7 linked regions of the Homo sapiens genome follow. The protein of the gene in region 7 purifies or fractionates together with the protein of the main gene of each other region. This does not show direct contact. Each region holds a gene or a part of one and is shown on either strand. Other genes may lie near its edges.

The links.
Region 1: the proteins of VAPA (region 7) and PRKACA purify together in Homo sapiens (affinity purification with mass spectrometry; 4 studies listed by BioGRID and IntAct, with this or other methods). This does not show direct contact.
Region 2: the proteins of VAPA (region 7) and TACC1 purify together in Homo sapiens (co-immunoprecipitation; 5 studies listed by BioGRID and IntAct, with this or other methods). This does not show direct contact.
Region 3: the proteins of VAPA (region 7) and ACBD5 purify together in Homo sapiens (co-immunoprecipitation; 5 studies listed by BioGRID and IntAct, with this or other methods). This does not show direct contact.
Region 4: the proteins of VAPA (region 7) and MIGA2 purify together in Homo sapiens (co-immunoprecipitation; 4 studies listed by BioGRID and IntAct, with this or other methods). This does not show direct contact.
Region 5: the proteins of VAPA (region 7) and STK4 purify together in Homo sapiens (affinity purification with mass spectrometry; 4 studies listed by BioGRID and IntAct, with this or other methods). This does not show direct contact.
Region 6: the proteins of VAPA (region 7) and PITPNM1 purify together in Homo sapiens (co-immunoprecipitation; 5 studies listed by BioGRID and IntAct, with this or other methods). This does not show direct contact.

Annotation. Positions count from the first base shown.
Region 1 is NC_000019.10:14,114,963-14,118,902, forward strand, and holds the start of PRKACA (cAMP-dependent protein kinase catalytic subunit alpha), read right to left. Parts: upstream 2,801-3,940; 5' UTR 2,586-2,800; coding exon 2,540-2,585; intron 1-2,539.
Region 2 is NC_000008.11:38,825,236-38,828,735, forward strand, and holds part of TACC1 (transforming acidic coiled-coil-containing protein 1), read left to right. Parts: intron 1-72; coding exon 73-133; intron 134-1,932; coding exon 1,933-2,140; coding exon of another isoform or gene 2,141-2,193; exon of another isoform or gene 2,194-3,335; intron 3,336-3,500. UniProt on the Homo sapiens protein: Involved in transcription regulation induced by nuclear receptors, including in T3 thyroid hormone and all-trans retinoic acid pathways. Might promote the nuclear localization of the receptors.
Region 3 is NC_000010.11:27,237,998-27,241,965, forward strand, and holds the start of ACBD5 (acyl-CoA-binding domain-containing protein 5), read right to left. Parts: upstream 2,801-3,968; 5' UTR 2,723-2,800; coding exon of another isoform or gene 2,692-2,722; coding exon 2,677-2,691; exon of another isoform or gene 2,497-2,676; coding exon of another isoform or gene 2,488-2,496; coding exon 2,322-2,487; intron 1-2,321. UniProt on the Homo sapiens protein: Acyl-CoA binding protein which acts as the peroxisome receptor for pexophagy but is dispensable for aggrephagy and nonselective autophagy. Binds medium- and long-chain acyl-CoA esters.
Region 4 is NC_000009.12:129,039,626-129,043,125, forward strand, and holds part of MIGA2 (mitoguardin 2), read left to right. Parts: intron 1-826; coding exon of another isoform or gene 827-969; coding exon 970-1,065; intron 1,066-2,678; coding exon 2,679-2,889; intron 2,890-3,500. UniProt on the Homo sapiens protein: Regulator of mitochondrial fusion: acts by forming homo- and heterodimers at the mitochondrial outer membrane and facilitating the formation of PLD6/MitoPLD dimers. May act by regulating phospholipid metabolism via PLD6/MitoPLD.
Region 5 is NC_000020.11:44,965,269-44,969,311, reverse strand, and holds the start of STK4 (serine/threonine-protein kinase 4), read right to left. Parts: upstream 2,801-4,043; 5' UTR 2,744-2,800; coding exon 2,709-2,743; exon of another isoform or gene 1-2,708. UniProt on the Homo sapiens protein: Stress-activated, pro-apoptotic kinase which, following caspase-cleavage, enters the nucleus and induces chromatin condensation followed by internucleosomal DNA fragmentation.
Region 6 is NC_000011.10:67,495,364-67,498,863, reverse strand, and holds part of PITPNM1 (membrane-associated phosphatidylinositol transfer protein 1), read left to right. Parts: intron 1-17; coding exon 18-268; intron 269-541; coding exon 542-731; intron 732-839; coding exon 840-947; intron 948-1,184; coding exon 1,185-1,342; intron 1,343-1,427; coding exon 1,428-1,633; intron 1,634-1,752; coding exon of another isoform or gene 1,753-1,804; intron 1,805-2,515; coding exon 2,516-2,686; intron 2,687-3,261; coding exon 3,262-3,426; intron 3,427-3,500. UniProt on the Homo sapiens protein: Catalyzes the transfer of phosphatidylinositol (PI) between membranes. Binds PI, phosphatidylcholine (PC) and phosphatidic acid (PA) with the binding affinity order of PI > PA > PC. Regulates RHOA activity, and plays a role in cytoskeleton remodeling.
Region 7 is NC_000018.10:9,955,516-9,959,015, reverse strand, and holds part of VAPA (vesicle-associated membrane protein-associated protein A), read right to left. Parts: 3' UTR 1-3,500. UniProt on the Homo sapiens protein: Endoplasmic reticulum (ER)-anchored protein that mediates the formation of contact sites between the ER and endosomes via interaction with FFAT motif-containing proteins such as STARD3 or WDR44.

The sequences.
Region 1 (3,940 bases), on a different chromosome or scaffold from region 7:
TGCCCCCTGCAGGCTGGCCTGGCTACTGCCCCTGCCCCTGCCCCACCCTTCTAAGAGGGCAAATTTTGTCTAACTCCATCCTCTCAGAATCAGAGCGCCTCAAAGCAAAGAGGGACTTCCTTCCTCATCTTATTTCCTTCTCTGGGAGCCTCTGGGAGGAAGTACAGCTTCGGGCGTTTCTCAACGTGTGACATAGTCCCATTGGCAGAACATGACATGATTTTCGGGATGTTTCATTTATCTAGTTACACTGTATTTAATGCGTATCAGAGAAAATATAACTGGCATGGCAATCCCATGATTTCATTTATATTATTGTTTAGAATGAGCTCCAAGTTTACATCTGAACACAAGTGAGTAAAACTTTTATTATTTTAAATTAAGAAAATATGATAGAGTAAAAATCTGGGAGGCTGCTGAAAAATGTCAAAGTCGGGGAATTCTGGGGTCCAAGAAGTTTGCTGGTAGATGGATCTGGATGTGAATCCTGCCTCTGTGACATCATCTATGTCATGGATGTCATTTCTACCAGAGGGCTCCTTTGGAAAATTTGGATAACAGCCCGTTATGAAAGTCACCAGAGTAGGTATCTCTATCCGCCTGGCCATTTAGCCTGTGGCACAGCCTAGATGCCCAATAAATAGTAGCTCTATTTTACCATGATCATTCATTCCTGGGTGTCTGACCTGTGCTCTGAGAGAATCAGTGGTTCCTTCCAGAGCCTCTGATCTTTTTCTTGGGATCCTTTTTCTTGTGTGGCTTTCCACCCCCCACCACATGTGTCTGATAGCCTTGAAGGTTTTCCAGGACTGTCATCTCCCCAACTTTCAACTGAGCTACCGCAATATATAGCTGCCTGCCTCTACCTTCCACCTCCCAGCTGGCCTCACCTGCTGGGGGCCTGACTCCTCCCCCCCCGGCCAAGTCCCCTCCAAGCTCATGCCCAGACCTTTTTTGGACACTACCCACCTGCTCCTCTGTCATCAGGCACTCAGCTACAGGCATTTCCCTCCCCAGCCCCCACCCATTGGTGACATGTCAGGCCTCTTCATGATCGCTCTGTGACTCTGAGTTCTGCTATTTGAATCCGTATGGGAATAAAGTTCCCTGGCTTTCATACCTTTCTGGGAGGGGGCATTCAGGAAACTCAGATGCTGGGGTTTGAGACCAAAAACTGGCCTTCCTTTTCGACCAATAGTTCCGACTATTTCTGGGTAAGTGGACAGGGGATCCCAGCTGCCTTCCAGCTTTCAGACTGGAGTGACAACAATTTAAGAGCTGTAAAAATTGGGAATGGGGTTCAAGACCATTTCTGATGGTATTTCCAGATAGAGAATCTCTTTCTCTGGCTGGCTGGAAAAGACCAACCTAATGTGTGGGCAAGTGGGTGAAACAGGTCTCTCTCTGGCTGAGCCCTGGGAATGATCAGAATCACTAGACGTCAAAGCAAATCACTAGACGTCACCCATTACTCTCTTTGACTGCCTCCTCCTCCCCAGTGCTCTTTCTGACCATCTCAGTTAGAACCGAATGAACCTCGCTAAACCCAGACACTTTTCATCCCAAGCCAGGAGTGGTGGAAGAAGCCCCAGGGACTGGGTGAATGACGGAGCCTCAGTTGTGAAACGACCATTTATTGAGGGGCCCTCCATGGAGCCTAGAGCTCACTGCAAGACAGGAAATGAGAGGGGGCTCTGCCACCACCCCCTTACCCCAACGCAGGAAAGAGGATGCAATGAATCCCAACAAGACCAGCTCAAACTTGGCTTTGGAAGCACTGAAGCAATTCTCTACGTTCATAAACAGTCTGCTACCCCAGCCAGGGACAGACGCTTGCTTGGAGGACGGAGCACAAGCAGAGCAGCAGAATGACAGAGTGACAGGATGAGAGAGGCAGAGGGACCCAGAAAGATCCTGTCCCCCATGCCAAGTGACACAGAAGAAAAAAATAATGCTGGAGGTGGCTCTGGGAAATGTTCAGGGGGCAGGATGGGTTTGGAAGGGGGGGCTGTGCTAAGGTGAAGAGGGAAAGGGCAGGAGAAAGATGGCGGGGGCTGGAGGGGGGAGGGGTGTGGTCAGCAAGTGGCCAAGGTCCCTGCGCGGTGGAGGCAGACAGACCTCATCGCATTCCCAAACTGGTAGAAACCTGGGTCGGGGTCAGGCAGAGGATCCCATAGGTGAGAGAGGTGAGTGAGGAAGTGGGGGGATTAGAATCTGGGAAGAGGGGCCAGGAAAGGAGGGGGTAGGCTGGTGACAGGGGCCCATGTGGGGCCCCAGCGGTCATACGTGCCATGGTTGGCAGTGACAGCTGGGGGGGAGCACGGTCTTTGCAGCATGGGGCGGCCCTAGGGGAAGGGGACCCCTACAGGGGGTACTCTGCGGGCCCGCGGGCCCCAGCCTTGGACAGGCCGGGGCAAGGGGCGCTGGGGGGTAGGCAGAGAGGATGAGGGGCCCCGTAGGGGGAGGGGCCAGGCGATGATGGACAAGGCCAGGGCTGGCAGCGCAGGGCCAAGATCGGGGTCACAGCCCGGGCACTCACCGCTCTCCTGCTCGCTGCCCTTCTTGGCGGCGGCGGCGTTGCCCATCGCGGCGGCGGCGGCCGGGGCCGGTCCCGGAGCTGCGGCGCGGCGGGTGCTGGCTGCGGCCGGCGGCCCCGGAGCGCGCTGGGCGGCGGCGGCGGCGGCCCTCGGGCTGGCTGCGCTAGCTGCGGCGCCGCGACCCCCGCCCAGCCCCTGCTTCCCGCGTCTCTCCGCGCCCGCCCGCCCGGGAACCTCAGCCCAAGATCTCTGCCGCTGTCTGTGACGCCCCCGCAGCCCGCCGCTCATTGGCCTAGGCCGCCCTGACTGACGGCTCAGCGCCGCCTCCCATTGGCCCTCCCGCGACCTTCCCGCGCCACTATAGGCTCTCAGCCTCGGGACACGCACCGCGGACTCTCGGCCATTCACTCGCTCGCGAGGCCGCAGCTGGGCGGGCAGACGCGTCCGATTGGCCGAGACGCTGGACTGGGCCCGGGGTCCGCCCTGCGAGGCCGCCGATTGGCGGAGGTGCCGGGTCCGCCAAGCCCCCCAGCAGAACGCTCAGTGTCAATCCGGGGGTGAGAGGGCGGGGCGGAGACGCAGTCTGCGGGCCCGGGCCGGCGGGGCGGGGCGGCGGAGGCTGGCTGGCGGCCGCGCAGCGCTCCGAGGCTCAGGAGGCGGCCCCGGCGGGCGCCCGGCCGGCCCCGCGCGCGCCGCAGTCCCCCGCCCCCGCTCAGTGCGGCAGCGGCTGTCGGCCAGCCGGAGTTGGCGCCGCGGCCTGCCCGGCGCAGCCGCTGTCCACCTGCCAGCGGGGGAGGGGCGCGGCCGGCGCGCGGGTCAGAGGTCGCCCGGCCGCCGCCGGCGTCATTCATAAGGCCTGGCGCTGGGCGGCCGAGGCCAGGCCTGCTTGGGGGCCAGGCCGCGGGGCCTCCTGGGTTTTCCCAGCCGCACTCAGGAGGATGCCGGGCCCGGCGCAAGGGGTGGCTGGGAAGGGGCGCTCAGTGTCCACCCCTTTGCTGGGCCCTAGCCCTGGGCTCCTGCCAGTAGTAAGAGCTGGCACCCACTTAACGCTCCTTCGCACCACACTCCCATCGCGTAGGTGCTACCATCATCACTCCCATTGCACAGATGAGGAATCTGGGGTACAGCCAGGCAGATTCCCTGCTCCTGTTCCCCGTCTGTATTTCCTGTCTGGGCAATGCGAAGGGAACCTGCCCCTTCCTTCAGGATCCTCTTTCAGTACACACTTAGCAGAGGACAGTCGGGGTTTCCCAACTGCGACACTACTGACGGTGAGGCTGGATCATTTTCTGCTGGGGGGTGTCTTGTGCACCACTGGGTGTTGAGCAACATCCCCCGCCTCTACCCACTGGATGCCAGTAGCCCCTCCTCTATCTTCCTGCTGGCTGTGGCAACCGCTGTCT
Region 2 (3,500 bases), on a different chromosome or scaffold from region 7:
TGCTCCATTTCATACCTTGACAATTGTCAGTGTGATTGCAAACTGGCTTGTTTGTGTTTCTTCTCTTTCCAGGAGTGGCTGTAAGGTGAAGAAGCATGAAACTCAGTCTCTCGCCCTGGATGCATGTTCTCGGGTGAGTCTGTGCCCATCTCCAGAATGTCTCTGAGACCAGGGGTCCTCCAGTGGGAGTTTGCATCCCCCTGGCGGGTGGTTCAAAAGGACTTTCCAATGGGTACCTGAGTACTCAGCTTTAAGAAGCCAATTTCCAGATCCTTACTGTCCCTGAAGAGAAGGCCCCTGAAGACAAGGGAACCCTTTCACAATGACTCTTTTTTTTTTTTGGTAAAATTCCCACTTTAAATGCTACAAAGATGCATCACCACAGGGTGTGAAAGTCTCCAGGGCACCGAAGGGAAGATCTGAAATACTGGTGTAGGTTCTAATAAGATAATTGACTCTAATAACTGGATGGTATTTTTCTTAAGTCAGATGGTTTTCTAATTCATTGCTTTCAACAATAGAGGAAAACCTGAGTTGTCAGCTGATAGGTCTAAAAATAATGTTTGATGGTAGATTTTTTTGGGCACATAACTTGGAAAGGGGTTCAAAGAATTGAAAGGCACTTATGTTACAGAACTACTTTCTGTTTCATCTATTGTTTATATAAATAAGGTTTCTTAATGATTATATTGATAAAAATAGAAACCAGGAATAAAATTGATGTTGACCTTTGTTACATTCTAGCAATAAATAATATCCATCCATGACCGTATAAACTAATTGCAAAACAAAGCGAAGCCCAGGCCCATCTGATTGCAATGAGATCCTTTTGTTCTTTTTAAAACTTTCTCAGTATACTTATTACAGAAATACATTCATTGGTTAATAGAGTTCAATTTAACATAACTTTTCCTCTACAATTTGGATCAGAAACTTGGTATATGGTGTAAGATGTAAAAAAGGGGTGTGATGGGGGAAATTTACAATCTGAGTTATTTTTCATCTGTTAACAAATGTGTAACATTCTCCCTCAGATTTTGCTAAAGTAGGCAGCAAGAACTATGAGAAATTTATCTTTGGTTTTCTTTAAAAAACAAAAACAAAAACCCAAAACCCATATATTTAGTGCACTGTAAAAGTTTTTAAGAATTAGTGCAATAAAACATTTTGTAATTGATATAACAACTTACTTTTGTGTCTGATAATACTTATCAAAACTTGCAATATTTTGAAAATAAGTTGTGCATTAATAAATGTGATAAGTCTCCAGCAGAAAAAATTTTAAGACTTAAAGAAAAAAGTTTCACAGAGACATTGGATAGAGACTTTTAAAAAGACTTTCAACCATGCAGATGTTTTTCATTTGGATAGTTTCTTGATGGAAGTGGGATGGAAATACAGATTTAGAGAGGAAAAGGAATAACATAAATTTCTGACTTATTCAGGAACTTGTTCATTTAAATTTACATATGGTATCAAATCACTAAGGTAACTAGATAGCATTAAGTAAATTCAATATTTAGAATATTCCAGATATTACATTCTTTGCAATTATTTAAACTTATGCCAAAAAGTTTTTAGATGTCACTTGAAAATGCAATGGGGGACATAGATTTTCAAAAAAAAATTAGGTATATGAGCAAAAAAATTGAAAACCATTGTCTTAAACCACTGAAACTGCTTGCTTATAAACTTAACCTAGAGAAGATCATTTTTTAAAACCTCAGACTCAAGTTACAGAAACTAGGTTCTATAAAACAGCATCTCACAATTGAAAGACTCCAACTTCCTCCTTGCTTTGTACCCAGGTCTGTGGTTAACCTCTCACATATCTGTATGGAGTTGTGTCTACTTTGTTCCATTCATGGGATGTCACTTTTCCCCATTGCTTGCCCTCCTAAAGGGTAGCATCTTCTCTGTTGTGTTTCTCAGGATGAAGGGGCAGTGATCTCCCAGATTTCAGACATTTCTAATAGGGATGGCCATGCTACTGATGAGGAGAAACTGGCATCCACGTCATGTGGTCAGAAATCAGCTGGTGCCGAGGTGAAAGGTGAGCCAGAGGAAGACCTGGAGTACTTTGAATGTTCCAATGTTCCTGTGTCTACCATAAATCATGCGTTTTCATCCTCAGAAGCAGGTATGGAAGCATATCTTCATCTTTCTAATGTACATAAGCATGGAAATGCCTGAAAGCCTAATAAAGCAGGAGGAGCCTTACAGAGATTAAAGAATTGGGTCACTTGAAGGATAGATTTAGGATGCTGACCTATGCTTTGCTTCTTTACCTGGAAAAGGGACACAAAGTGCTTATTGAAGTACTAGGAACGTAGAGATACTTGTGACAAGTTGTATAGGAGATGCTGATGTATGTGAGACTGCTTGAATTTCTTTATAATTTTATGTGAATATGGCCATATCTTAAAGTATAGTGGTGTGTTAGTTCATTTGCGTTGCTGTAAAGGAATACCTGAGAATGGCTAATTTATAGGAAAAAGAGGTTTATTTGGTTCATGGTTCTGCAGACTGTAGAATAAGCATGGCACCAGTGCCTGCTTCTGGTGAGGGACTCAGGAAGCTTCCAATCATGGTGGAAGGCAAGGGGGAGCAAGTGTGTCACATGGCGAGAGGTGGGAGGAAGAGGGGGCGGGGAGGATGCCAGGCTATTTTTAACAAAGATTTCACAGAAACTAACAGCAAGAAGTCGCTCATTACCACAAGGAGGGCACCAAGCTATTCATGAGGGATCCGCTCCTATGACCCAGCCACCTCCCATTAGGCCTCACTTCCAACTGTTGATCAGGTTTCAACATGAGATTTAGGGGGCAAATATTTAAACTATATCAAATGGCCTATAAATATGTCATATGTTTGACTTTTTTGTGATTGTTATACTCATTGTTTAACTTAGAGAAATAACAACTGACATGTATGGTGCCTTACCATGTACAGGCATTGTTTTAAGTGCTTTGCATATACTCATTCATAGCAAGGTGTTACCCTTTTCTCACTTCTTCAGAGAAACAAAGTAAGTCAAAGAAGTTAAGTGACTTGATTAAAGTCACTTGGCTAGGGTAGGACAGAAAAGTGGTATCTTTTTCCTCACCACAAGGTTCATGGCTGAGACATCTCTAACAAAAGATCAACAAGAGAAAAGTGTACAAATATATTTAATATAAGTTTTACATGACATTAGAGCCTCCAGAAATGAAGACCCAAAGGAACAGGGAAAACTGTACTTTTATAGATAGTTGTGCAGAAGTATAATTGGAGGACAGAAGGGTGTGATCTGTGGTAATAAACCAGGGGAACTTAGCAAGTCCTGTTTGTTCCAATTCCTCTTGGTGTCTGTGTCTTTCAGGATAAGGACATTGTTTTTCTCTGTGTACAGGGAGGACCCCTCTTGTAATGAGGTCTTATGAACTATTTTCAGGGGAAGGTCTGAGGGGTTGCTTTATGGCCTGCTTCAGGAAAGGGGGCAGGAGAGGGGCCGAGAGACC
Region 3 (3,968 bases), on a different chromosome or scaffold from region 7:
GGCTGGGGTGTGATCTAGGCTCACTGCAAGCTCCGCCTCCCGGGTTCACGCCATTCTCCTGCCTCAGCCTCCCGAGTAGGTGGGACTACAGGCGCCCACGACCACGCCTGGCTAATTTTTTGTATTTTTAGTAGAGACGGGGTTTCACCGTATTAGCCAGGATGGTCTCAATCTCCTGACCTTGTGATCCGCCAGCCCCGTGATCAGCCCGCCTCAGCATCAGCCTGCCTCGGCCTCCCACAGTGCTGGGATTACAGGCGTGAGCCACCGCACCCGGCCGATAGGGTATGTTAACTTTGCAATACTTTCTTAAATGTTATGTACATACAAACTGTACTTTATACAGGTTTCCTAATAAGTGGTACATAATGTCAACAGGCATAGTGGCCTAGAGACATCAGTCTAGCTTTACCAATTTTCAAAAAACTATAAAAACGTGTGCTTTAGAAGAAAGTATAAACATACTACTTACATAAAACTCTTAGAATCATACCTTTCTATAAACACTAATAATTAGGGACTTAAAAAATCAATACCTAAATAAGTTCATGCTTTTTTTTATATTTTATTTGTTCTTTCTTATCTTTCAGTCCCCCATATGCCCTCCTCCAATAGAATGTTTGAAATTACAAAAGGTTCAGACAACACCATAGAAGGAAAGAAATTACAAATGGAACACTATTTTGTGTATATTTGTTTTTAAAAATTTCTGAATCTGCATTTAATGAATTTTTATTGAATGATGTGTTGAATATTTGTTACCTATAATTATTGAAATTATTGATAATTAATGATAATTAATGAAAACAGAAATCATGATATTAAATACTATAGTAACATATTATTGTTGTATTCAGTTAGTTTTACAACTGTGGCACAGTAGTAGCACCTATAATTACTTTCTAAATATGTTTATTGGGCCGGGCGCGGTGGCTCATGCCTGTAATCCCAGCACTTTGGGTGGCCCAGGAGGGCAGATCACCTGAGGTCGGGAGTTCAATACCAGCCTGACCAACATGGAGAAACCCCGTCTCTACTAAAAATACAAAATTAGCCGGGCATGGTGACGCACGGGTGTAATCCCAGCTGCTGGGTAAGCTGAGGCAGAAGAATCGCTTGAACCTGGGAGGTGGGGGTTGAGGTGAGCTGAGATTGTACCATTGCACTTCAGCCTGGGCAACAAGAGCGGAACTCCATCTCTAAAGAAATAAATATGTTTATTGTGAAATATAATTCATATAATGTAGAAAGATATGAATTGAAAAGTACGTCTTGCTTCTAAGACTCTGCATTTAGAACAGAGAAAAATATTTAATGGCCAAAAACTTCACATTGGTCTATGACATAAAATTACAAATTCAAAAAGCTCTGCAAATCGTGAACAGGGTTAATATGAAGAAAAACCACATCTACTAGTCAAATTGCTGAAAACCGAAGATAGAAAAGAAATCTAAAAAGCAGCCAGAGAAATAGCACATTAAATACAAGAAGGAGATCAGCCACTGGAATGACTTTTTTCTCACCAGCTGCAAAGAAGGTCCAATATGAGTATAAAAAAGAACATTATACAATGGAATAGCAAATAAAAAGGTAGAAAATATATATTTATTAAAATAGAAATTACTTCACAATTGACTATAGTTATTCTTTCTTTTCTGTCCCTTCATATCAAAAGTTTTCAAAACGCTTAAGCTGGTAGACCCTATGAGTGTGTGGCATTAGGCATCCCCAGCCTAGATTTTTGTTTGTTTGTTTGTTTGTTTGTTTGAGATGGAGTCTGGCTCTGTCGCCCAGGCTGGAGTGCAGTGGCACGATATCGGGTCACTGCAACCTCTGCCTCCCGGGTTCAAGCAATTTCCCTGTCTCAGCCTCCCGAGTAGCTGGGACTACAGGCGCACGCCACGAAGCCTGGCTAATTTTCGTATTTTTTAGTAGAGACGGGGTTTCACCATATTGGTCAGGCTGGTCTTGAACTCCTGACCTCAGGTGATCCATCCACCTCGGCCTCCCAAAGTGTTGGGATTACAGGCTTGAGCCACCGCGCCCGGCCCGGATTTATTTTTTAACACACCCAAATCCGCAGTCATTAAGTGACAAGACTTTTGTTTTCAACAATATGAAGTACTTAAAATCTGGATATTAGATTTTTCTCCGGTTTGGAAGATCAAAAGGTAATTAATTCATATTCAATAGCTCCCCTTCCACTACATGGCTCCTACACAGAAAAAAAGGCTAAATAAACAACACTAGAACCAGAAAGTGAAAGGGGGCTTTGGGGCTCTCTGCAGGAGGCGTCTACAGCCGGGGCCCAGCGCACGTACCATTCTTCGGCAAACTCTGGATCACCTTCACGGCCGCCTCAAACCTAGTCTCGTGCACGGATCTCGTGTCCGCCATCTCCAGCTGCCAGTGTTGGCCCCGGTCCCAAGGTCTGTCGGCGGGAATCAGGCAGCAGCAGCACCAGCTTTCCCAAGAGCCTGCATGAAACTGGAACATGGAGCGCAGCCGCGGATCAACATGCCCCAAAAGGAGGAGGCCCGGGAGCGAAGCGGGTCAGTTCCCCTTTGCCCTGCCCTATCCAGGCCACACAGATCGAAGCGGCCCGGCTCCTTCCTCCTCCCCCGGGGCGTGACTAAGGCCACGAATCCGGCCCGCGACGACAGCAAAACAACTCACCGAGAGGAAGAGCATGTCTAGCAGAAGACAGAGGGGGTCCGGGCATCGGTGGCCGCGGAGCCGCTCTCCCACCCTGGGGACCCTGGCGGAGCAGCCACACCCCCCATTCCGCCGGAGTCCGTCTGTCAGTCCGTGCCCTCCCCACAGCCCCGCCCCAGAGTCACCGGAGGACCCACTGGCGCCGCCGCCGCCGCAGCAGCAGTGCAGCAAACCCCACCCACCCGACCCGCCGCCGCGGCAAGGACGCGCGCGGTCCGTCTGTCCCCAGAGGAGGGTCCGGGAAGCGGGGAAAGGGGGCCACAGTCCCGGCTTGGTGCGGGGAGCACACTGTGCGCGCTTTTGTTCAGAAGGGGGAAACCGAGGCCGGACCGATGTGTCCGCTCTGGCAGCCGGGTGGACGAAGTGCGCGCTGGGGATGCGCGGTTGGGTTCTGCACCTGGGCCCAAAGCTGCACGCGACGGCACCGCTGGGCAACAAAAATGACTCTGCGGTCCCCAGCGCCTGCACTCTCCTAAGTTAAGGTTTGAGGAAGTTAAATGGGGCCTAAGCAAAGGGCTTTAAGTCGGGACAGGTTCTGTGAGAAACTCCAGTTCTGCCATTTAAATTATGTGACCTAGGGCAAGTCACTTAGCCTTTCCAGTGGCAATCGTGACACCCACTCTAAAGGGTAGATGGAGAAAAGCATTGGGGACCTTGGATGGAGGTGCTCAGCAGTCCCTGGCCCGCAGGTCTTCGACAGTTTTCGCTGCCCTGAGCCAAGAACGTCCGAGGAGCAGCCGAAGGAGAGAGGAGGTCGCCGGCTCCTAAACTGGGCTGGGACGGAGGGCAACTTCCCCTACACTACCCTTTCCACCCAGCCCCAGGGAGCCAGGCACCTCCAGCGGGATTTAATAGGAGACTGGGCATGGGGACGGCCGGGCACAGTGGCTCACGCCTGTAATCTCGATACTTTGAGAGGTCGAGTGGGGAGGATTGCTTGAGGCCAGGAGTTCAAGACGAGCCTGGCAACATGGCGATACCCTGGCTCTATTTAAGAAACCAATAATTAAAAAAAAAAATAAAAATAGGATACTGGGCGTAGAGGGCGGGGCCAATGAGGAGTCTTTACGGGTCGTCAACCCTAGAAAGGGGGTGCCCTGGGCCTTCAACTTACTAGCGCAACCCCCTGCGTCCTTAGGCATTTGGGAAGTGCCCCAGGCCGAACGTTGGTGGTGGGACTGACTAGGTTGTGGGGGGTGGAGTCCTGTAGCCCGGAAATCCCAAAGTCTCCCGGATGGAAGAGTCGTTTTTGT
Region 4 (3,500 bases), on a different chromosome or scaffold from region 7:
TCAGCTCACTGCAACCTCTGCTTCCCGGGTTCAAGCGATTCTTCTGCCTCAGCCTCCTGAGTAGCTGGGGTTACAGGTGTGCACCACCACGCCCAGCTAGTTTTTTGTTTGTTTGTTTGTTTGTTTGTTTGTTTGAGACTGAGTTTTGCTCTTCTTGCCCAGGCTGGAGCGCAGTGGCCCCATCTTGGCTCACTGCCACCTCCACCTCCCAGGTTCAAGCCGGTTCTCCTGCTTCAGCCTCTTGAGTAGCTGGGATTACAGGTGCGTGCCACCACACCCAGCTGATTTTTGTGTTTTTTAGTAGAGATGGGGTTTCACCATATTGGCCAGGCTGGTCTCAAACTCCCGACCTCAGGTGATCCACCCATCTCGGCCTTCCAAAGTGCTGGGATTACAGGCGTGAGCCACCGTGCCCAGCAAGAAAACATTCTTAACTTTGTGGGAGGTAAAAAGATGCAATGATTCTCAGTCTGGGGTCTAAGATTTTTGCTTAGCAAATGGTCCATGGGTTGAAAAAGGTAGAGAAAATGTGGCTTAAAGCCCTAAGTCTGAGAGTGACCTGTCCACCTCCCAGGTTCTGGGTCCTCTCCTGGGCTGGCTGGCCAGAGATGTTTCCGCTCGCAGGGCCCCTGGTAGGCAGAGGGTCTGTGGGTGTGGGGCTGCCTGCTGGCGGGCAGATGCAGAGGCCTGGGGCCTGATTCCAGGCCTGGGGTTCCAGAGGCAAGCTTTGCTCCTGCCTCCTCCCCCATGGACGCTCTTCTTGAGTGCATTTCTGCATGTTCCCGTGTGCACGTTCTCTTATCTGACTTGGTCATCTGTCTCTTAGCTCTGTGGAGGGGCCCTCTGGTATGTGTGTCCCTGTCCTTCTGGGGCGTGGATGGTGCCTGGGACCCAGCTGGCAACCAGTTGAAGACGTTCTCCTTGGAAGCTCTTGGCCCTGAGGACTTTGCCTGGGGCATTGGCCCTGCCATGGCGTTCCGGAGGGCCGAGGGCACGTCTATGATCCAGGCCCTGGCCATGACGGTGGCCGAGATCCCCGTGTTCCTGTACACGACGTTTGGGCAGGTAAGGATCAGGGTGGGTTGTACCTCTGGTCTATGAAACACTTCCATGCTCAGCCAAGGGCTCCTCCGTGTCCAGGAACGCTGAGCCCTCGTTCTTGCTTTGCCAAACCTCTGGTGTCTCCTCTTTGGACTGGGTTTGTTGTCTGAGGCTTCAGGCCTGTTCTTTAGCCTGAGACTATACGAACTCTTTTTTTTTTAATTAATTAAAAAAATTGTATTGGCCGGGTGCGATGGCTCACGCCTGTAATCCCAGCACTTTGGGAGGCCGGGACGGGCGGATCACCTGAGGTCAGGAGTTCAAGACCAGCCTGGCCAACATGGTGAAACCCTGTCTCTACTAAAAATACAAAAATTAGGCGGGTAGGCTGGGCACAGTGGCTCATGCCTGTAATCCCAGCACTCTGGGAAGCTGAAGCAGGTGGATCACCTGAAGTCAGGAGTTCAAGACCAGCCTGACCAATATGGTGAAACGCTATCTCTACCAAAAGTACAAAAATTAGCCAAGCATGGTGGTGTGCACCTGTAGTCCCAGCTACTTGGGAGGCTGAGACAGAATTGCTTGAACCCAGGAGGCGGAGGTTGCAATGAGCTGAGATCATGCCACTACACTCCAGCCTGGGCGACAGAGCGAGACTCCGCCTCAAAAAAAAAAAAATTAGCTGGGCATGGTGGCAGGTGCCTGTAATCCCAGCTACTTGGGAGGCTGAGGCGGGAGGATCACTTGAACCCAGGAAGCGGAGGTTGCAGTGAGTCGAGATCGCACCACTGCACTCCAGCCTGGGCAACAGGGTAAGACTCCGTCTCAAAAAAAAAAAAGTTTTTCGTAATAGAAATAGGGCCTTGCCATTTTGCCCAGGCTGGTCTTGAACTCTTGGGCTCAAGCCATCCACCTACCTTGGCCTCCTAAAGTGCTGGGTTTATAGGCATGAGCCACTGCACCTGGTCCTATATGAACTCTTGACCTCAGTTACTCAGTCTGTAAAAGGGGTCAGTGCCCTCCCTGACAACTCACATGTTTGTGGCTGACTGGGATCTTGACCGAAGATCTGCCTTGTGGGGTACAGTCCCATCTGAGGGGCTCCCAGGCCTGGGGGGCAGAGGGTGAGGTGCAGCAGTAGGAATTGTTCAGATGGGGTGGCAGGTGAGTGAGTGTCATCATCTTTGAGGCATCACTGAGAAATGGGGGTCAGCAGATCTGGGTTTCATGTCTGCCTCTGTCACCTTGAGTATATGTCTTCATGTGGGTGAACCTCAGGTTCCTCGTCTGGAAATGACAGGGACTCAGATGGGTACCCCAGGCTAGGTCCTAGTGCAGTGCCGGGCACAGCTGGTGCTTGTTCACTGCGGCTTGTGTGCTCATGACTGAGGGTGCTGGCCCCTAGACCTCACCTTCTCGGCACTGGCATCTTGCCATCTTTATGTTTTTGTGGCCTGTGTTTCAGGGAGGCTGGTCAACTTCCCCGTCTAGGGTGGCTGCCTCTCAGTCTCTCATCTGGTCGGCAGATGTGCCGGAGAGCCGGTGTGTGTCCCGTCCCTGAGGTGCTCTGGGGCGGTCCTGCTGCCTTGGACCTTCCCCAGGGAGGTGTAACCGGCAGCGTCTCCTCTTCCCTGCAGTCTGCATTCTCCCAGCTACGGTTGACGCCAGGCCTGCGGAAAGTCCTCTTTGCCACGGCCCTGGGGACTGTGGCCCTGGCCCTGGCTGCCCACCAGCTGAAGAGGCGACGGAGGAGGAAGAAGCAGGTTGGTCCCGAGATGGGAGGGGAGCAGCTGGGCACGGTGCCCCTCCCTATCCTCTTGGCCAGGAAGGTCCCTTCAGTGAAGAAAGGTAGGTGTGAGGTGGTGGGCATAGGCCTGACCTGAGGTCACATCCTGGGGTCATATCCCAGCTGGGTCACTCTCTACTTGGGGATATTGGGCCAGTGTCTTCCTGTCTCAGAGCCAAGGTCTCCTGATCTGTGAGCGGGATGACAGTAGCGTCCCTCCCTCCAGTCACTGTACTGGAGGGTGATGTGGTTGGATGCGCATGCTCCATTGGTGGAGGTGGTTTTGGTTGTTCTCATTAGCTGAGGACCCTTTGGGAGCACCTTGGTCAGAGGGGGTCGGGGATGTGGCTCCTGGGTCCAGAGAGGGATGTTCCCCAGGCTGAGGAGCAGGAAGAGCCATGTGGTTCTTGAATGATGCAGTATTCCTCCCATTCCCTTCTCTCTTAAAAATTGAGGTTTAGGCCGGGCGCGGTGGCTCACGCCTGTAATCCCAGCTCCTTGGGAAGCCGAGGCGGGCAGATCACAAGGTTAGGAGATCGAGGCCATCCTGAATAACACGGTGAAACCCCGTCTCTACTAAAAATACAAAAAATTAGCCGGGCATGGTGACGGGCACCTGTAATCCCAGCTACTCAGGAGGCTGAGGCAGGAGAATGGCGTGAACCCAGGAGGC
Region 5 (4,043 bases), on a different chromosome or scaffold from region 7:
GTAACTATTTCTTTTTCCACACAGAATTTGATATGGATTACAACAACTATACATGATAAATGGACAAAATCTTACATAATAAAACTGTGTCCCCAGCTTACCCCAATTCATATGCTGAAGTCCTAATACCCACCACCTAAGAATGTGACTGTATTTGGAGACAAGGCCTTTAAAGAGGTAATTAAGATAAAATGAGGTCATATGGGCATGCCCTAATCCAGTATGACTGGTGTCCTTATAAGAGGAGATTAGGACACTGACAGGTACAGAAGGAAGAACATGGAGACACAGGGAGATGGCCATCTACGAGTCAAGCAAAGGCGTCAAAAGAAACAACTCTGACAATGCCTTGATTTCAGATCTCTAGCCTTCAGAACAGTGAGAGAATAAATTTACGTTGCTTAAACCACCCACTCCATGACACTTTGTCTTGTCCTGATAAACTGATACACGTGATAATAAAATTGATCTGCTTCAAATTAGGCAATCTACTAGTTACAATGAGCTGGGAATCACCAGCCACTTCAGAACCCAGTCCTGCAATGCTCTTCTCTTGTGCTTTTAATACATTTTTTAAAATCCAAAAGGTACAGGAATGAGCATGCCAAGAAACTTTAGTCCTTTGCTCAAGATTATGTAAGACAAGGCAAAGGGGGAAACAAAACTCAGATTCCTAATCCTCTTTTCAATTAAACCAAGGCCTCGGAGAAAGAAACCAAGAAGAACGAACGAACATAGTTCAGAAAGAAACATAACTAGTGTGCATTCATAATTGGATCACTATGGTACTATAGTAAATATCTGCTAACATACACAGAGACCTGTGAAACAGGGGTACTTTTAGAGAGGCATCAGAGTGAGGCAGTTAAGAGCATGGCCGGGCCCGGTGGCTCACGCCTGTAATCCCACCACTTTGAGAAGCCAAGGTGGGCGGATCACGAGGTCAGGAGATAGAGACCATCCTGGCTAACACGGTGAAACCCCGTCTCTACTAAAACTACAAAAAATTAGCCAGGCGTGGTGGCACGCACCTGTGGTCCCAGTTACACAGGAGGCTGAGGCAGGAGAATCGCTTGAACCCAGAAGGCGGAAGTAGCAGTGAGCCGAGATTGCGCCACTGCACTTCAGACTGGGCGACAGAGTGAGACTCCGTCTCAAAAAAAAAAAAAGAACATGGACTTTGGACCAGACCCCATAGACATTAAAATCCTAGCTCTGTCTCTTACTTGCTATGACTTCTCCCAGCAAATCACTACCCTCTGTATCTCAGTTTTATCATCTGTAAAACAGACATATAGGGATATCTACCACACAGGATTGTTGTGAGGTTCAAATGAGTTCAAATGAGGTTTTTATGGTTCAAAAATGGTCAAATATCAGCAATTTCATATGCTTCAGCAGGACACATGGAAAGCACTTAGAACAGTGCCTGGCACCCGGTAAGTGCAATATGAGTGTAATAATCATTACTATTACAGTCTCAGCACACTACGCTAGGGTGAATCCAAAGCCCATCCCAACCACCTATTTGCCTTCTGCAATGTTTGTGCACCTCAAACATCCCCAAGCTCAAACAACCCCTAAGAGTGCTGCCCAGGCAGTCAATCCCTTCTCTTCACCTCTTGGTTGCCCTGCACTTCCACACCCTGAACACTTCCTTCTTTAGAGCTCATTCTGCTGCAGGAAGTCAGACGTCTCTGTGAAATAGAAGTAACCACACTGAACCTCAGAGAAGCATGACTCCTTCGGTCTCTAGTCCCTACTTTTCTCCAGATGTGGTAGAGTGGCAAAAGACCCGGGATGTCCACAAGGGAAATCCAGGAGTTGAGATTTTCTAGGATCAGCCACCATCCTGATCTTGAACTAAAGCAATTCCAGGTACCACTAGGATTTGGTGCTGATATTCACAAAACAACTGAGGCCTGAAAAGGGCACAGACTGGCAGGGTTCAGTGACCCGGAGTAAAGAAGGAAACACTTCCCAACTACTCTGGACCTCAGTCTCCCCATCTCGAAAATATCCTCTTATTTCCTTACCTACCTCCCAATGTCAGGTTCTGAAGAGCTGAGGAGGATGTGAAGACCATTAGGAAGACACTGAACATCAGTAATAAAAGATGCCATCCTACAGTGGGGACACCACCAACAGCATCCTCTGAAATGCTACCCTCCACCATCCCCTCCCTTGCTAGACCCTCAACCTTTCCTCGCATGCTTTCAGCCTTAGGCGCAAAGCTTTTCCCCTCCACAGATCCCCCCACCGCACCCCTCAAGTGGGACTTCAGACCCTTAGAAAGTCCACCCGGCCTTCCTCTTGGCCAGTTCTCGATCCACCCCCTTAAAGAGATCCCTCACAGATTCTCACCCTGCTTCAGCATTCGCCCCCACCTCCGTGAGTCCCTGCTTGGATAGCGTTCCCCCGAGTGGCCCGGCCTCAGCAGGTACTCTCCCTAACTTGTCCCCACGTTCCTCAGCACAGTCTCACCACAGCGAGTGCTCCCTCTAACCGGTCCCAAGTCTAACCTCCTTAGCAGATGCTCCCCTCAGCCGGACCCTCACCCACCAGACGTCCCCCCCCTCACTCAGCAGGTGCCCCATCGGCTGGGTCGCTTAGCTCCGGGGACTCCCACACAGGTGTATCCCCTCAACCAGTTCCCGCCTTTTCTTCCCCTGACCCCATGCCCGTCCTCTTAGCCAGTGGCCCCTCACCGGCGCGGCGGGTTCCTCAGCTGTACCGTCTCCATGGCGCTGCCAGCAGCCGCCCAGACCCGCTCACTGCTCCATCCTCCCGCGGACCTCCTGAGCCCGCCCCGCAGACCCTCCCACACTTCCGCTTTCCGCCCCTACCGGAAGCGGCGCGCGGCGCGGGAGCGGGGCGGAGCCACGGCCCTGATCACGTGGTTCGGGCGTGAGTCTTGTGGCGCGGTGGGGCGCGGACCCGGAACCGCCAAGTGGTGAAGGCGCCTCCAGGCGGTGCCCGCTGGTCTCTAGAGTGTCAGTGGCGCTGTCTTCCTGCGTTACCGGAGCGCACAAAATACTCGGTCCCCAGGCCGAGAACGCACCTCTACCTGGGTCCTGGGTCCCATTTCACAGACTGAGATGCGTGAAGCGCCTCCTTTAGAAGAGCTGACAATTCTTAGCAAACCAAGTTTTGCGTGATTTTGGGGAGGCGGCGCTGCCCCAGGAACGCCTGGAGGTATTTGTGGTTTTCTGCCGCTTACCTGGTTGAACTCTGGTCCCAACGGGCCCCCTGCACATTTTCTCCTACAATGCATCAACGCGCAAATTGCCCCACTGTCTTTCTTAAAGGCCTCCCCTTTAAGTCAGTTTGCAGACATAAAAATAAGCAACATTAATTAAGCATTTGCCGTGTACTTGTCTTCATATATTATCTCATTTAATCCCCTGTGTCAAGCCGATAAGGTCATCCCCGTTTTTATTTATTTAATGATTTAACACAGTCCCTAAACGTTTTCAGTGCTTTACCTCATTTAATACTCCTAACAACCTAGACGGTATTATTATTATTCCTACTTCATAAGGCCAGAGAGGTGAAGTATCTAGCCCAAGGTCACATAGCTTAGAGTATAGGTTTGGGGATTTAAATCCAGTTTGGTCTGATTTCAGGGCCTGCACCACCAAACTGGACAGCCATGGGTGTGTAACCTCTTTTTGGGCCTGAGAAACAGACCTTTCTCTCCACTCAGAGCTCCGGCTTCAGCTATTGTGCTTCCGAATGCCACTACCATCAGTAAGTATTAGGAAAATGGCAGATTCTACCCAATTGACCCATGGGGAAAGTTATAGGAGAAAACTTAACCAGAGCAACCTCTCACTGTTTTTAATTGCCTTGCTTTTCCCAAGGATATGCCATCTACAGAACTTAACACCTGAGCACCCACCCTTCAGGGCCACCCATGGGCCCAAAACGGGATAAAGGAGCCATTCCCTGACATAGGAGGAAAACATTTGCTGAGAAGCTACTGTGTGCCAGACACAATCTTGGACTTTCACTTAATCCTCAAAACAGCCCTAGGAAGAAGT
Region 6 (3,500 bases), on a different chromosome or scaffold from region 7:
CCCATTGTTCCCCCCAGGGCCTGGATGGAGCCGGGGAGCTGGGGGCTGAGGCATGCGCAGTCCACGCCCTCTTCCTTATCCTGCACAGCGGCAACATCCTGGACTCAGGCCCTGGAGACGCCAACTCCAAGCAGGCGGATGTGCAGACGCTGAGCTCCGCCTTCGAGGCCGTCACCCGCATCCACTTCCCTGAGGCCTTGGGCCACGTGGCGCTGCGACTGGTGCCCTGTCCACCCATCTGCGCCGCCGCCTATGCCCTTGTCTCCAAGTACTAGCCACGGGTGGAAGGGCAGGGAACTCGTAGGATCAGGCCAGGGAGCGGGGCAGGGAGCGGGGAAGGGGTCAGGAAGCCAGACACCTGGGTCGGTCACTGGCATGGCTGGACCTGTTCTGGAGAATGGCTCCATTTCAGTTGCCTCTTGGGGCTAACGCTCCCCACAGAGGACCCACAGAGCCAGGGCCTGCCAGCAGGCCCAGGGGACTTGGATGGCAGGAGTGGGTCTGGAAGCCCCTCACCCACGCACATTTCCCCCTCCTACAGCCTGAGCCCTTACAGCCACGATGGGGACAGCCTGTCTCGCTCCCAAGACCACATTCCACTGGCTGCCCTGCCACTGCTGGCCACCTCATCCTCCCGCTACCAGGGCGCCGTGGCCACCGTCATTGCCCGCACCAACCAGGCCTACTCAGCCTTCCTGCGCTCACCTGAGGGTGCCGGCTTCTGTGGGCAGGTCAGCGGTTAGGGACAGTCCATCTGCTGCCCTCCACTGCAGCCCCCACTGTAGTCTGGCCTGGGTGAGGACAAGGCCTCTCCTGATGGTGCCCCTGCTCCCACCCAGGTCGCACTGATTGGAGATGGTGTTGGTGGCATCCTGGGCTTTGATGCACTCTGCCACAGTGCTAACGCGGGCACCGGGAGTCGGGGCAGCAGCCGCCGTGGGAGCATGGTCAGTATAGCCAAACCCGGCCTCCTCAGGAGCGGAAAGGCCCTCTCTGGCTCTAGGTCTCTGCCCCCTGGAATGCCACCCCTCTGCCAGCAGGCAGGCCCCCTGCTGCCCTGCCAGTTCATGTCTTCTCTGGAATTCTGCTCTGCCCAACCCCCAAGCCTCGCTCCTCACTTCTAAGTAAGTAGAATTCGAATGGTCCCCAGGCCTAAGAATGTTTCTGTCTCCTGTTCCATCCAGAACAATGAGCTGCTCTCTCCGGAGTTTGGCCCAGTGCGGGACCCCCTGGCAGATGGTGTGGAAGGCCTGGGTCGGGGCAGCCCAGAACCCTCGGCCTTGCCTCCCCAGCGCATCCCCAGCGACATGGCCAGTCCTGAGCCCGAGGGCTCTCAGAACAGGTGACGTCCCTGCCCCATCACCCCTACCCTGGGCACATGATGGACTACAGAGGCAGCAGCACTGAGCACCCCTCCTCCCCCACAGCCTTCAGGCAGCCCCCGCAACCACCTCCTCCTGGGAGCCCCGGCGGGCAAGCACGGCCTTCTGCCCACCCGCTGCCAGTTCCGAGGCACCTGACGGCCCCAGCAGCACTGCCCGCCTTGACTTCAAGGTCTCTGGCTTCTTCCTCTTCGGCTCCCCACTGGGCCTGGTGCTGGCTCTGCGCAAAACTGTGATGCCCGCCCTGGAGGGTGAGTCCTAGGGGCTGCGGGGGCGCCTCTAGTCTCTGTCTGCCCCTTCCTTCCCCACCTCCTCTGGCCTTCCCTCTCATCCGAGGCATGAGCAACTTCCCCACTGTACTAATTCAAAGGCCTGGCTACAGAAGGGGAACCTGAGGCCCAGAAAGAAGGGACTCGCCAAGGGTGAGTCTCCCAAAGCCACTGGGAGGAGCTTCACACCCGTGGGATGTTCTGCACTAGAAGGGGTCAATCAGACACCACAGCAGCAAATCGAAGCCGCTGCCCTCTTCTCAGCCTTTTTTTTTTTTTTTGAGACAGAGTCTCGCTCTGTCACCCAGACTAGAGTGTCAGTGGCCTGATCTTGCTCACTGCAACCTCCTGGGTTCAAGTGATTCTCCTACCTCAGCATCCCAAGTAACTGGGATTACAGGCACCTGCCACCATGCCCAGCTAATTTTTGTATTTTTTTTAGTAGAGACAGGGTTTTGCCATGTTGGCCAGGCTGGTCTCGAACTCCTGACCTCAGGTAATCCACCCACCTCTGCCTCCCACAGTGCTGGGATTCCAGGAATGAGCCACTGAACCCAGCTAATTTTTGTATTTTTAATGGAGACGGGGTTTCACCATGTTGGCCAGACTGGTCTCGAACTCCTGACCTCAAGTGATCCATCTGCTTCTGCCTCCCGCAGTACTGGGATTCCAGGCATGAGCCACGGTGCCCAGCCCCTGTCTCACTTTAAGCAGGGCCCTACTGACTTCCCAGGGAGTGCAGTTTGGGAAGTGCTGGCTCGGGGTCACACCAGACATCAGGGTGCTGCTCCCACACCCCCTACCTCCCAGAGTGCCCAGCTGAAACCCTGACCCCACAATCTTTCTCTGTCTTCTGGGTACCAGCAGCCCAGATGCGCCCAGCCTGTGAACAGATCTACAACCTCTTCCACGCGGCTGACCCCTGCGCCTCACGCCTCGAGCCCCTGCTGGCCCCGAAGTTCCAGGCCATCGCCCCACTGACCGTGCCCCGCTACCAGAAGTTCCCCCTGGGAGATGGCTCATCCCTGCTGCTGGGTACGCCCCCAAACAAGATAAAGGGGAGAAGGAGGAGGGCACACACAGGAAGGGAGGAGGTAGCAGAAGACATGAGGAGGCTCCCAGACGATGGAAAACCTCTCAGGCCACCACTCCCAGGACCAGGCGCTCCTTCCCCCTGGGGGGGTCTGGATCCCCAGGACCCTCTGACCTCCTGGGCCTAGAAGTTGGGTGGGGGTGGTTAGCCAAGCTAGAGAGGGTGCCCCCTGGCAGCATGATGCTGGTGTGCTGCCATACAAGCAGCCAGCATGTGTGCGCTGCTGCATCTGTGTGGGGTGTGCTGCAGACATTTATTGCGGGGCATGCCCAGGTATGTATGGGCCAAGCGGGCCTGTGTTGGGCACAGGTGTGCAGCGTTTGGGGCGGTGGCAACAGGCATTCTGGCAGGAGTGCAGCTGGCCACTGGGCTGAGAGGAGAGAATGCCACAGTGCAGCCTCAGCCAGGACCTGACCAGAGGGGCCACAGGAAGATGGCAGAGGTGCGGGGAGCCCTGGGTGAGAAGACAGGAGAGCCACCTGGCCGGCCCCTGCTGACCTTGCCCTCCTTCCCCCAGCCGACACTCTGCAGACGCACTCCAGCCTCTTTCTGGAGGAGCTGGAGATGCTGGTGCCCTCAACACCCACCTCTACTAGCGGTGCCTTCTGGAAGGGCAGTGAGTTGGCCACTGACCCCCCGGCCCAGCCAGCCGCCCCCAGCACCACCAGTGAGGTGGTTAAGAGTAAGTCAGCCAGCCTAGGCAGTCCAGCCTGGGGGTGGGGGAGGCCCGTATTCCACCTCCGAAGCCCAGCTGAG
Region 7 (3,500 bases):
CTAAGTAATAAGCATGTTGAAAACGACATTATACTTGAAAACCACCTTTTGCTTTGAGAAATACATGATGGACAAAATAAATTTCTCAGGTAGGTAGGTACACTGGGTGTCAGCAAAATGGCAATTAATACTGAAGCCCACATTTCTCAAATCGCCTTTTTGCGATGACAGCTCATTTATTCACAAGTCAAAAATCTTTAGTGGTATTCCAGCAATCCTAACTTGACAAGCAAAGCTTTTATGCAATTTTTTTTAAGCAATACCTAACAGTGACTCCTGCAGTTTAAAGAAAAATAAGTATTTTAAGTTCCCCTGTATTGCTGAAGTCAAGTCTTAATTAAATCTACTTCATATCTGCCTTTGGCATTTAAAAACCTACATAAAGCAACTGTCTGGCCGATGATTGGAGCTTGAAAAAAACTACCATGCCAGATCTCCACCCCAGACCAATTAGGTCAGTATCTCTGGGGGTGCTATTCAAGCAACAATTATCTTTTATGTTCCTAAGCTCATCATGAGTTAAGGTACTGCTATAGTTGAATATCACTACTACAAAAGTTATCTGAATAACTTCCTATATACTCTCTTTCAAGATGGGTGTTATACATAGCAACAACTGGAAAACAAGAAACTGAGTTTTAAAACAAGAAATGTGGCAACAGGAGGATATGCATAACTAGAAGGGAATTGTCAAGAGGCCAGGCCAATCAAATGTTACATTATAAAATGTCCATAACCTTAAGAAAGTTAACTATAAAAACAAAGCAAAATGCTTTTAGTCACATTTATACTTGGTTTTCAATAAACCACAGAAATTAAGCTGGAAAAAAATAGGATACAACTTATAATTAGTGATTATGCTTAAAGAACATTAATATTACAGGGAAATGAATGAAATGTTCCTAGCAATTGATGCTGCTGAAAGGCAGAATTTGGAATTTTTTATATTTTCCAAAAATTGCCTGAAGTGCACACACTGTGTCAGAAGGGCAAGACAAACTTTCTTTTTCCTTAGTGATATATGTTTATACTTCTTTGCACCAACCCACGAGCGGCTGGGCATTCATTCCCAAGATGCCACTGCTTACGCGAAGAAGCGTGGTGGTAGTCTACCAAAAGTGGGGCTATGAAACGTGGCATGAAAATCAGCTGTTCTCACTTCCTACTAAAAAATAGTTAACTCCATCTCACTAAGCAAGAGACTATCTGCCATCAGAATTCAAGTCCCAGTGATTAGCTATTAATGCTTAACAGGATATAAATGCACAAACCACACAATCTGTTGAAATTTTTTTTGTATTGTGAAAAGGAAAAGGACACTTCACATTTTTAAAGTTTATTCATGAATGGTTTAATTTCCCTTTAAAGCTAGAAAATAAAGATCATTTACCTTCTGATCTTCGTTTTTCCAAATGGTAATAAGCATTGATCCTTCCCTCGAATAAAGGTGAAATTTTTAAAATCTCAGTGAATAGGAATGTGCAAAGCTCTAAGAAAACTATTACTTGAATGTCTCTAAAGTGGTAGAAGATCACAAGTTGGGAATACCCTCAAAAACTATATTTTTACCCTACTGTTAAAACTTGTTTTCAAAGTGGTGTAATCTGAAAGATTACAGTTCAAAAGTAATTCCCATACCAAATAATATCAACTTTAGGTGAACATCTAAGTATTTAAGAGTATTATTTTTCTTGGCTGGGTGCGGCAGCTCACACCTGTAATCCCAGCACTTTGGGAGGCCGAGGCAGGCGGATTCAGGAGTTTGAGCCCAGCCTGACCAACATGGTGAAACCTTGTCTCTACTAAAAATACAAAAATTAGCCGGGCTTGTTGGCTCACACCTGTAATCCCAGCTACTCAGGCGGCTGAGCCATGAGAATCACTTGAACCCAGGAGGCGGAAGCTGCAGTGAGGTGAGATCACACCACTGCCCTCCAGCCTGGGCAACAAAGCAAGACTCTGTCTCAAAAAAAAAAAGAAAGAATTACTTTTCTTTGATCGGAATTTCTGAATTTCATACATTTTTCTTCCAAGTGTCATTTTTTTTTAAGGGAACATACCACACACTCAGAACATAATGACTTAGCTTCTTGTAAATATAAGAATGGGGGAAGTTAAGGTACATTAGTTATAGAACGAAGGAAGCTAGTGCATTCAGTGTCACATATGAACTCAAGGCCTTAGTTACTTGATTGTAATTTCAGTATTAGCAACAGTGTATTTCCCTCATGCTTACATATACAAGTAAGCAGGCAGACAAAGCAAAAACTTCTAAACATATAAGGAATGAAGACAAACAATTTAATCTCTATATTATCATATTATCAGTCAATTAATACAGTTGGACTTTCAAACTATAACTGTTGGTAGTAAAATAATCTGATCACATTTCATACAGCAATTAAAAATAACAGAAACAGAGTCTCACCTATACAATCAGAGCATCTCCTGATATGAACAACAGTTAAGCCCACATACATTTTAAAGATGCTACCCAGACTACAATCTATCTCAAAAGCAACCATGGCATAATGCATTTTATAAAATGCCTACCTAAAAATACATTGTATTTTGTAATGTTTATTACCAATGTGGGAGGCATTTCTAGCCTAAACACTATAACCAAACTATTCAACAGTAAGCCGGTAGTAGTCTTACAATAAGAAATTTCACATATACTTGTTATTATAAATAGCATTTTATGTTCATTATTTCAGCCATCTCTCAAACTAAGACAATTTTCAACAGTTACCAGAAGACACTGAGCTAGAGTCAACAGACCAGATATCTAGTTCCAGCTCTGCCTCTACCTACCTGTGAGACACGGGGAAAGTTCTCTTAACCTTCGTAAGGCCTCAGATTTCTCAACCATAGAACAAAGGGGCTGAACAAAATGAATTCTAAAGAGCATTCCCATAAAACGGGATTTGGCTAAATTTTCAAGAACTTAATTTCTTTAAAAAAAGATAGCTATGAGATACCAAACTTGGTATTTACCACCAATAATATTGATTATATAAGAGCTTTAAGCCAAGGAATTACTGATTCTGCATTTATGGGGTGAAAATATAAGACTATTTTTAGCATGCTTTTCCAGTTACCAGAAAAGGGGAGAGGGGGATTTTTACAAAGACAGTAAAGCATACAGCAATGGCAGTAAAGCATGCAGCATAGCATGCTAGTAATGGATAGGCATTACTTGTGTTTCCTTTTAGGAACTTTTGCACACAAGCAAGAGGTTTTATAAAAGATACCACAGCGCCCAATAACACAATATATGTGTGATCTGACAAATTCAAAACACAGTTGAAATGAAAAGGCAACCAAAATACTTCAGAGTACTTCATTCTTCTATAAAATGTGTACACAGACCTGGGCCTAAAATACTTCACTGCACCACATCCAGTTCTAAAATCCAATTTCCTTTTCAGGTAGAGCGCATCTTTTAAAAAAAGAGCCAACACACCTATGTTTAAGAATAAAAATTCACTTGTACTAGA